2 linked regions of the Homo sapiens genome follow. The protein of the gene in region 2 interacts with the protein of the main gene of each other region in a pairwise test. Each region holds a gene or a part of one and is shown on either strand. Other genes may lie near its edges.

Evidence for each region.
Region 1: the proteins of CORO6 (region 2) and BDNF interact in binary tests that used the Homo sapiens proteins (3 or more experiments, as listed by UniProt).

What each region holds. Positions count from the first base shown.
Region 1 is NC_000011.10:27,693,539-27,697,455, forward strand, and holds part of BDNF (neurotrophic factor BDNF precursor form isoform a preproprotein), read right to left. Parts: intron 1-3,917. UniProt on the Homo sapiens protein: Important signaling molecule that activates signaling cascades downstream of NTRK2. During development, promotes the survival and differentiation of selected neuronal populations of the peripheral and central nervous systems.
Region 2 is NC_000017.11:29,621,419-29,625,335, forward strand, and holds the start of CORO6 (coronin-6), read right to left. Parts: upstream 1,495-3,917; 5' UTR 1,481-1,494; coding exon of another isoform or gene 1,270-1,480; intron 67-1,269; 5' UTR 6-66; coding exon of another isoform or gene 4-5; coding exon 1-3.

The sequences.
Region 1 (3,917 bases), on a different chromosome or scaffold from region 2:
CAGCCAACATGTCGGTGCTGGATGTATTTTCCCAATGTTGCATAAGAGGAATACCTTCGAGAGTTTGGCCTAGGAATGTGGCCTGGGACTCCGCCAAGCATCTCTCTCCAGCAAAATGACTGCAAATTTCTCGACCTTCAGATTCTACATGATGTAAAAGAAGTTTGTCTGTGTTTAAAAACACATTCAAGAAATAAGTGAACATGTGAAAAGACAGAAAAACTTGTTTTAATTTGGGCATAGTTTCAGTTTTCAAAGGCACATGAAGGCAGAAAGAAAGAATCACAAAATGGAACTACTGATGATAGCAACTCCAAAACCAAGACTGATTAGACTAAATCCCATGTGGCAAAAATTTTATTTAGTAAGTTTCCTTCTCCCTCTCTCCCTTTAGATATATGTGCATACACACACACGCACCTTTATTTTAGTAATTTTTTTTTTCTGAAAAAGAAAGTTTTCTGCACCTGATTGCTTCCATGAATAACACAAAGCACAAACAATATGACTTTCTTTGGTTATCATGCAATTTTTTCTCTGCTTACCAGAAATTGGCACAAATTTAAGATATACTATATTCTACTCCCTGAAGCACAGTCGCTGGCATCTCCACTGGCATTTAAAAATTTGAAGACATTTAAAAGAAAATCCACAAGCTTATAGTTGCTGTCTAAATCAACTTTAACATTTCATATATTCACAATTTCATAAGTGAATCAAATTACACATAAGAAATTATAGAACTAAGCCAACTAAATGACTTTTATAATAGGTACTGGGGAAAAATATTATTAAACCTTTTCCTCCAATTTCTGCCTTTCTTCCAGCAAGACAAACCATTTTCATGAAGTTTCTGTCTACATCACTAGTGATAATCTGAAGCAGCCATTAATCAATCTATTAGTGCATTCAGCAACATTTATCAAAGTGCCTCCCCAGAACTGTTTTGGATGCTGTTGTGGGCGCATGCAAAAATGAACTAAATATAGATTTTTGTCATCCAAGAATTTTAAGTCAATTTGTAATTATTGGTTCCTGGTTCCATAACTTTTTTTTTTTTTTTTTTTGGTGCTGGCTCAGATGTATACCTTCATCTATTCTAAGGTTAAGGCAATCCTTATAATTTTCTTCCTTTTTCTTGTTTGTTTGTTTTTTGTGTGTGTGTTTAAAATCTTGCTTATATTTGACTTTATTTTATTCTCACATCTTCTGAGTACATTAAAGTTAAAGGTAGATCATAAATCGAAAACATTCTTAAAGGTCTCTCTACTCAAATTATTTGGTGTTATTGTATCTCAGAAAGTATAATGAATTGCCTGTAGCAAATAAATAAAATCAGAACCTTTATACTCAATGGTTCGGTTTGGTACATATCCATGAAAATAATAAATGTTAAAAAGGATGCTAGCCGTTGATTCCTGGCATGCTATTCTACATTTGGCTACATTACAACGTTAAAAGGATTTAGTGCATATATCAAATTGTGGATCTGCTTGTTTTAAAATTTCATCTGTAATTCCACATGCAACCCCCACCCCCATACACACTCACAAGATCTGAATATGGTAACAAGGAAATCCTAGTAACTGTAGCGTTGGAAAAATGGTTCATATGGAAATAAGCCATTTGGCTAGTAAAGCTGGTGATTTTGTTCTCTAGGTGGCACTATTACTTCAATTTTTGGTGAGTTGCTTAAATTACTTGGAACTGCCCGTTTATTTTCTTTGAATTCCCATTTTATAAATTTTAATTTTATACAAGCTAGTTGTAATTAAACGACAGGTTGCCTTCTAGGTTTTATTTCAGTAAGTCAATTTGAAGTTCAGTGATTTTTTATCATATAATTTTATGTTTCCTTACTATACTGTCTTAGTTTTAAGAAATCCTCCCTTGCCTGACCTCCTCTCTCCAAAAATGCAGAGGCATGTCAAAAACACAGAGGGTCGTCATAAAGTTTCCGTCAGACCAAAGGAACCAAGATGAAAGCATGTTTAAGAGCTACTAGGTTCTGGGAGATTTCAAAATCAGGACATTACTACCATGACAACCAATGAAAAGTTCTTTCAAGTGAACCTTTGGGGAAAACTATATAACGTTCCTTACTCTCTAGGCTCTCTGGAAATAAACTTTTACTTTATTATGGCTGTCACTAAAGCTTGTAAATTTACTTTGCTTCCTTCCAATCGTTCTCCTGTCCCACACTCAGCCCCCTAACTCACTTAATGCAACCCATCCTCAAACATCAATCTATAAATGAGACATCAGGGCAATGAGCCACTTCTTAGCATCTAGTATATTTGATAAGATTTGTCTCATCAAGAGGATAAGTGCCCTAGAGCTTCTACTTGAACTTAAATACTTAATTTAAATGAAAGCTTCCACACTTATCTGACCAGATACTCAAATTTTTCTACAGAAAAGAGAATACCTTCCTGTTCCACTTAAAGAACACACACATTTACCACTCCCCCTCCTCTCCCCTGCAAAAGGTTTTCAATGTCAGTACATTAGTGAGCTCCATTTTGCATCTGCCATCAATAATGATTCCATATAGTCAATAATTGGGTTCATGACCTTTCTAAATCTTTACAGTGTAAATATTCTGGAAATCCAGTGAGGCACTTAAGTATAAAATTATTTAGGATTAAATAATTCTATGCCTTAAGTAGAAGTTTAAGAGGACGTTTAGGACACACATGACTAAGCCTACAAATACCAAAGCCACTCTATGTTTCCTAGGTTTAAATACCACATGCAAATAACATACGGATTTCATTTGCCAGCATCATTTATTGCCTAACATTACTCCATACTAAACAGAGTAAATGGATGCAGAGTGTAACCAGTAAGTTTGCTCATTCACTTTTGAAGCTCATCTGTGCATGTTATTCATCCTAATAAAGAAAATTTATCACAACACAACTTGATGCGATTCTTGTTCAAATGATTTCCTCTTCCATTGAACAACAGCCAGCACTTAAAACCTAGAATTCCACAGAATTCTCTCCTCGATTCCTCTTTAAAATGCAATTCACAGTTTGAGATCACAGAGCCTGCCAGTGGCTGAATGGCTGCACTAGATGGCTGAGAGTCCTTCAATTAAGCAACAATTTTGCAATTAGTGGAAACTGAGTGCTCTATAACAATTGTTTGAAAACAAGTTGAGACAAGTTAGCAATTACCCTATAAAAGGGACATATTCACTTTTGTTGGATAGGCGAGACCCCTCACACAAATTGAACTCTTCCACACAGGGAGATGCAAGTTGAAAATTAATGTTTTAATCACTAAAATCAAATCCATATTATGGGCACCTGAAATGGGAGTGCCTTTCTTCTCAAAAGATATTCAGAGTTTAGCTATCATCCACTCTCTATGCTGTCTGTTTTTATTCAGGAAGTCTGAAATTGTTCTTCTGTACTCCGGGATTAATTTCCTACATCTCAAAATGTTAATAAACTACTTGAACATGACCTTTCCATTCTGTAAATTTCCTTAAGAGTAAGTCTACGATTGAGACCCAAAGCTGCTGGCTGTGTTATATTTCACAGTTCACAGTTCTCTCTCTCTCTCTCTCCCCCTCTACACACACGCGCACGTGCACGCACACACACACACACACACACAGAGAGAGAGAGAGAGAGAGAGAGAGAGAGAGCACCCCAGGTTTTAGAAGATGAATGTAAAAAGAATGTAAACAAGTTCTCTGCTATACTATCAGGTGGGCGTGCCCAGCTCACTGTGCGTGCTGAACTACAAACCAGTGCTATTCATATAAGAAATGATATCAATCATCTACATTTTGACTATTGAAAAGCTGGGACTCTTAAAGATTCCAGGAAAAAGGGAATAGCTTACATTTTCATGGCGCCCCTTTTAAACAGGAAACCCACGGACTTTGAGCCAGGATTTTAGAA
Region 2 (3,917 bases):
CATAGCTGCAGGCAGAGAGGTAGGATCTCAGTGCCCAGAAATGCCTTTGGTCCTTAGTCCTGTGAGCTGCGGGAGGGAGGAGGAGTGGAGGGGTGGCTGATGAGAAGGGTTATGTGGTCAGGAGTCAGGTATAAATCCATATAGTGTCTGGTCCTAGAAGCAGGGAGCTTTCTTCAAGGTGGTCAAAGTATGGGAAAGTTATTTTGCTGTGTAAAATGCTGTTTAATGTAAGTGGCTAGGATTTGGGGCCTGAATTCTCCACAGAGACCCAGGCTGAGGGGATTGTGGAGCCTAACAGACTGAAAGCTTTCTGGACGTTGGAATGTTTTTGGGAGGAGCCTCAATGCCACACTGCCTGCACCCCCCGCCCCCACCACCGCCAGCCTTGATGAGCATCTCTTCACGGACGTGGTTGTAGCTCCCAGAGGCACCCTGTCCAGAAGCAGAAGACTTGACCATTGGATCTTGGCTTAAAGCCAGGTATGGGGCCAAGACTGCAGCCACCACAGGATACCGAACTCGCATCTCTGGAATAGTTCAGGCAGATGGGGTTTTGCCTTTTCCTAAAATTTTGCCAAGGGGGAAGTTCCTCCTGTCCACCAATCTGAGTCCTTTCTGCTACTGTTTTCATCCCATGCCTTGTGGGGGGACGGGTGGCAGCACAGAGTGAGGTGGATCCCTCTTCTCCCACTCCTTTCTGCACTGGCTTCTCCAGGAAGCCCTGATCATGGTCTTCTGGCTTTTGCCTACCATAGGCTTGTCCGGTTTCTCCTCTGGGTCCTCTGCCCTGGTTGGGCCTTCTTCCTAGTGAACTCTTCTAGGGGTGGGGTCTTCAACCCCATCCTCCACCCCTGCCCCCGCCACGGCCAAGCCAGATTTGCAGGGGTGGGGAGGGTGAGGTGCCTTTTCTCCAGCTAGGGTCTCCCTAGAGGACACACTGAGCACTCCCAAAGCCCCAGCCAGTGGCTCCTGCCCCACCCCAGCCCCAGCATCCGTGTGCCCTTCAAGGCGCGTCTGCGGCCCCGAGCCTGAGGCCCGGCCTCCCTGCACCCTTCTTCAGCCTGCTGCCCTGACACTGCGTTCTTGCGAGACGAGGTGTCTGCGCCCTCCGGGAGCGCTGGCTGCTGTCCGGCCAAATATAGACACCACGTCCTCCCCGCCCGAAACCGAATTTGGCGGCGCGGGGGGAGGAGGCGCAGACCTCTGCCCCTCAGGGACCCCGCCCGCTCCGCTGGCTGCGGTGACGGCCGGGTGTGGGGGGCTGGGTACCTGGTCCTGAGCGGGCTGCGGGGCGCTCACGCTGCGAATCCTCTGCGGAAGGGGCCCGAGTGCGTAGGGGGCCGAGGAAGGCTTCAGGGCGAAGGAGCCACCTCTCCGGGTGTCTGTAGTATCTGGGACCCGGGTGTCCAGCTCCGCACTCTGGCCGATCCTGCGGCTCTCTAGAGCCCGGCGCCGCTGCAGCCCCAGCTGCCGCTGCCATCAACCTAAGAGGGCGGGGCTAGCATAGGGGCGGGGCCAGAGCCCAAGTTGCCCCGCCCCCTCCAGCGGCGGGAAAGTCGAGCGACCCCGACTCCCCTCCCAGCTTCCGCCGGCCTCGGAGAACCATCGAAAATAAATGTGCAGCTGTGTGCTAGGTGCGCACGCTGCTTCCCTCCCTCCATGACTCCCGGGTAGGCTGGGGAGGCTCGGGTTCGCAGACCTAGAGCAGGACGCTTGGAGAGGGAACGGGCGAGGGGGCGTGCGCCCCTAGAGCGGGCAGCCGAGGGAGACCAGGTGCCTCCACCCGCATTCCAGCCTCAATCGCGCTCCCAATTTAGCTGTCCCGATCGGCCGGGACTGCGGGACTGCACTTCCAGGCCTCCCTGGGGGAAAGAGGCCCTAGAGAATGAGGACCCAGGCTGATCCTGATGTAGGGCAAGTGAGAGGGCACCCGACACAGGGTTGTGAATGTTAGTTATTGTTATGAATGGCAATAGCGATCATTTGAGAAACCTAAAATGCTGGCTGTGTGCTAGGCATTTCACCCCATTAGATGAGATTCCATGGAGCAGGGCAGGAAGCAGCTGAAAGAACAAGGGGAGGACCGAGTGTAAAGTGAACCCACCTTGACACTCCCTCCCCTCCCAGATGCAGGGGGAAGAGGCTAGCACCGGTCTCTAGTCACATTTTAGGGGTCAGAGAAGCCAACTCAGAGGCCAGACTCCTAATGTTTTCTGGGCCTTGTTTGAATTGGCGCCCGACTGTGTTCCAGGTAAGCTTCCCCCGTCTCCCCCAATATTCACAGAACTGAATGTTGACCGAGGTCAAGGAGATTAAAGATAACCTGATCAAAATACAGCCAGTGAAGACCAGCCAGTCCCGTAGCTCCAGTCTACCCAGTGTCTGCACATTGCCTGGATTTCTTCCCTTGGATCATAAGGGCATCTGGGGCCAGTTATTACTTCCCACCCTCCAGGGCACACCTGGGAGTGAGTGAATGGAACACAGCCTTCTGAAGGGCAGGAACCAGCACTGGGGAGGAAAGGGAGGGAAGGTGGTAGAAACCATGAAGGGCCCACGAGGCTCCTTTGTTTCTCAGGAAGAGTCCAGGTGGCTTGTAGGGACAGAATCAAATCAAGAGTCAGTGGCTTGTAGGGGAACAGAATAAAAAACTGTTACGAGTGCTCCAGAAATAACTCCTGGCGTAGGGGTGCTGGGGCAGGGTATGAGGGTATGTGAGTCATCTCTCTTTTACCTAAAGATTCCAGGCACATGATTAGGAGGAAAATACCTGAGTGACTCAGTTGCTCCTTTACAACAATAACCCATGCTTATGTGCTAGGCACTGGCACTAAGGGCTTTATACGTATTAATTTCATACTCTTAACAATCCTCTAGGCTGGTCGCGGGTGGCTAACGCCTGTAATCCCAGCACTTTGGGAGGCTGAGGCAGGTGGATCACCTGAGGTCAGGAGTTCGAGACCAGCCTGGCCAACATGGCAAAACCCCATCTCTACTAAAAATACAAAAATTTGCCAGGTGTGGTGATGCACACCTGTAATCCCAGCTACTCAGGAGGCTGAGACACGAGAATTGCTTGAACCTAGGAGGCAGAGGTTGCAGTGAGCTGAGATCATGCCACTGCCCTCCAGCCTGGGTGACAGAATGAGACTCTGTCTCAAATAAAACACACGCACAAAAAACCAAAAAACAATCCTCTAAGGTGGGTACTGTTGTTATCCCTATTTAACAGTTGAGGAAATGGAGCCACAAAGAGGTTAGGTGGCTTACCCATCACAACCTCAACTGGTAGTTGATGTAGCTATGATTCTTACCCACGTGGTCTGGCATCTGGTTCTTGCTTTTCAGCAGCATGCATTTCTGTCTCTCCCTGAAGGACAGTGCCACTTTATCTCACAAGTGCTGAGCTAAAACGTAACTGAGAGTTTATACTGTGTGGCACAGAGGAAAGGATGCCTGGAATGAATTAAAAAACTGGTTCCAGTCCTGGCTCAATCGCCATATTTTTACAGCTCTCTGAACAGGATTGGGTCAGATTCTTTCCAACTCTGCACCACTCCTTAGCAGAGTAGGGATTTTATGTGCTGCCTCCTCTGAAGTGGCATCTCCCCTACCCCCACCCTCCTTCTCTTTAAAGAGAACAGGAGACTCCCTTCTAGAGGGAAGCGCTTGGGACTAGGAAGCAGGAATCCTTCAATGCGTGCTCCCTTCAGTTCCATCATCTAGGAAGAGCAGTGCTTTCTGGGTACAGGGATTCAGATATTTGCTTGGGCCTGGCGTAGCTCAGCCCTGCCCTCTAGCCTTCTTCTGGCTGCCAAGGCCTGACAGAGCTGTGAGTGGGCAGAGTTAAGGCAGGAAGAACCAATCAGGGAGAGAAGCTACTTGGGCTTCGTGCCTCCCTTTTGAACTGTTAGCTC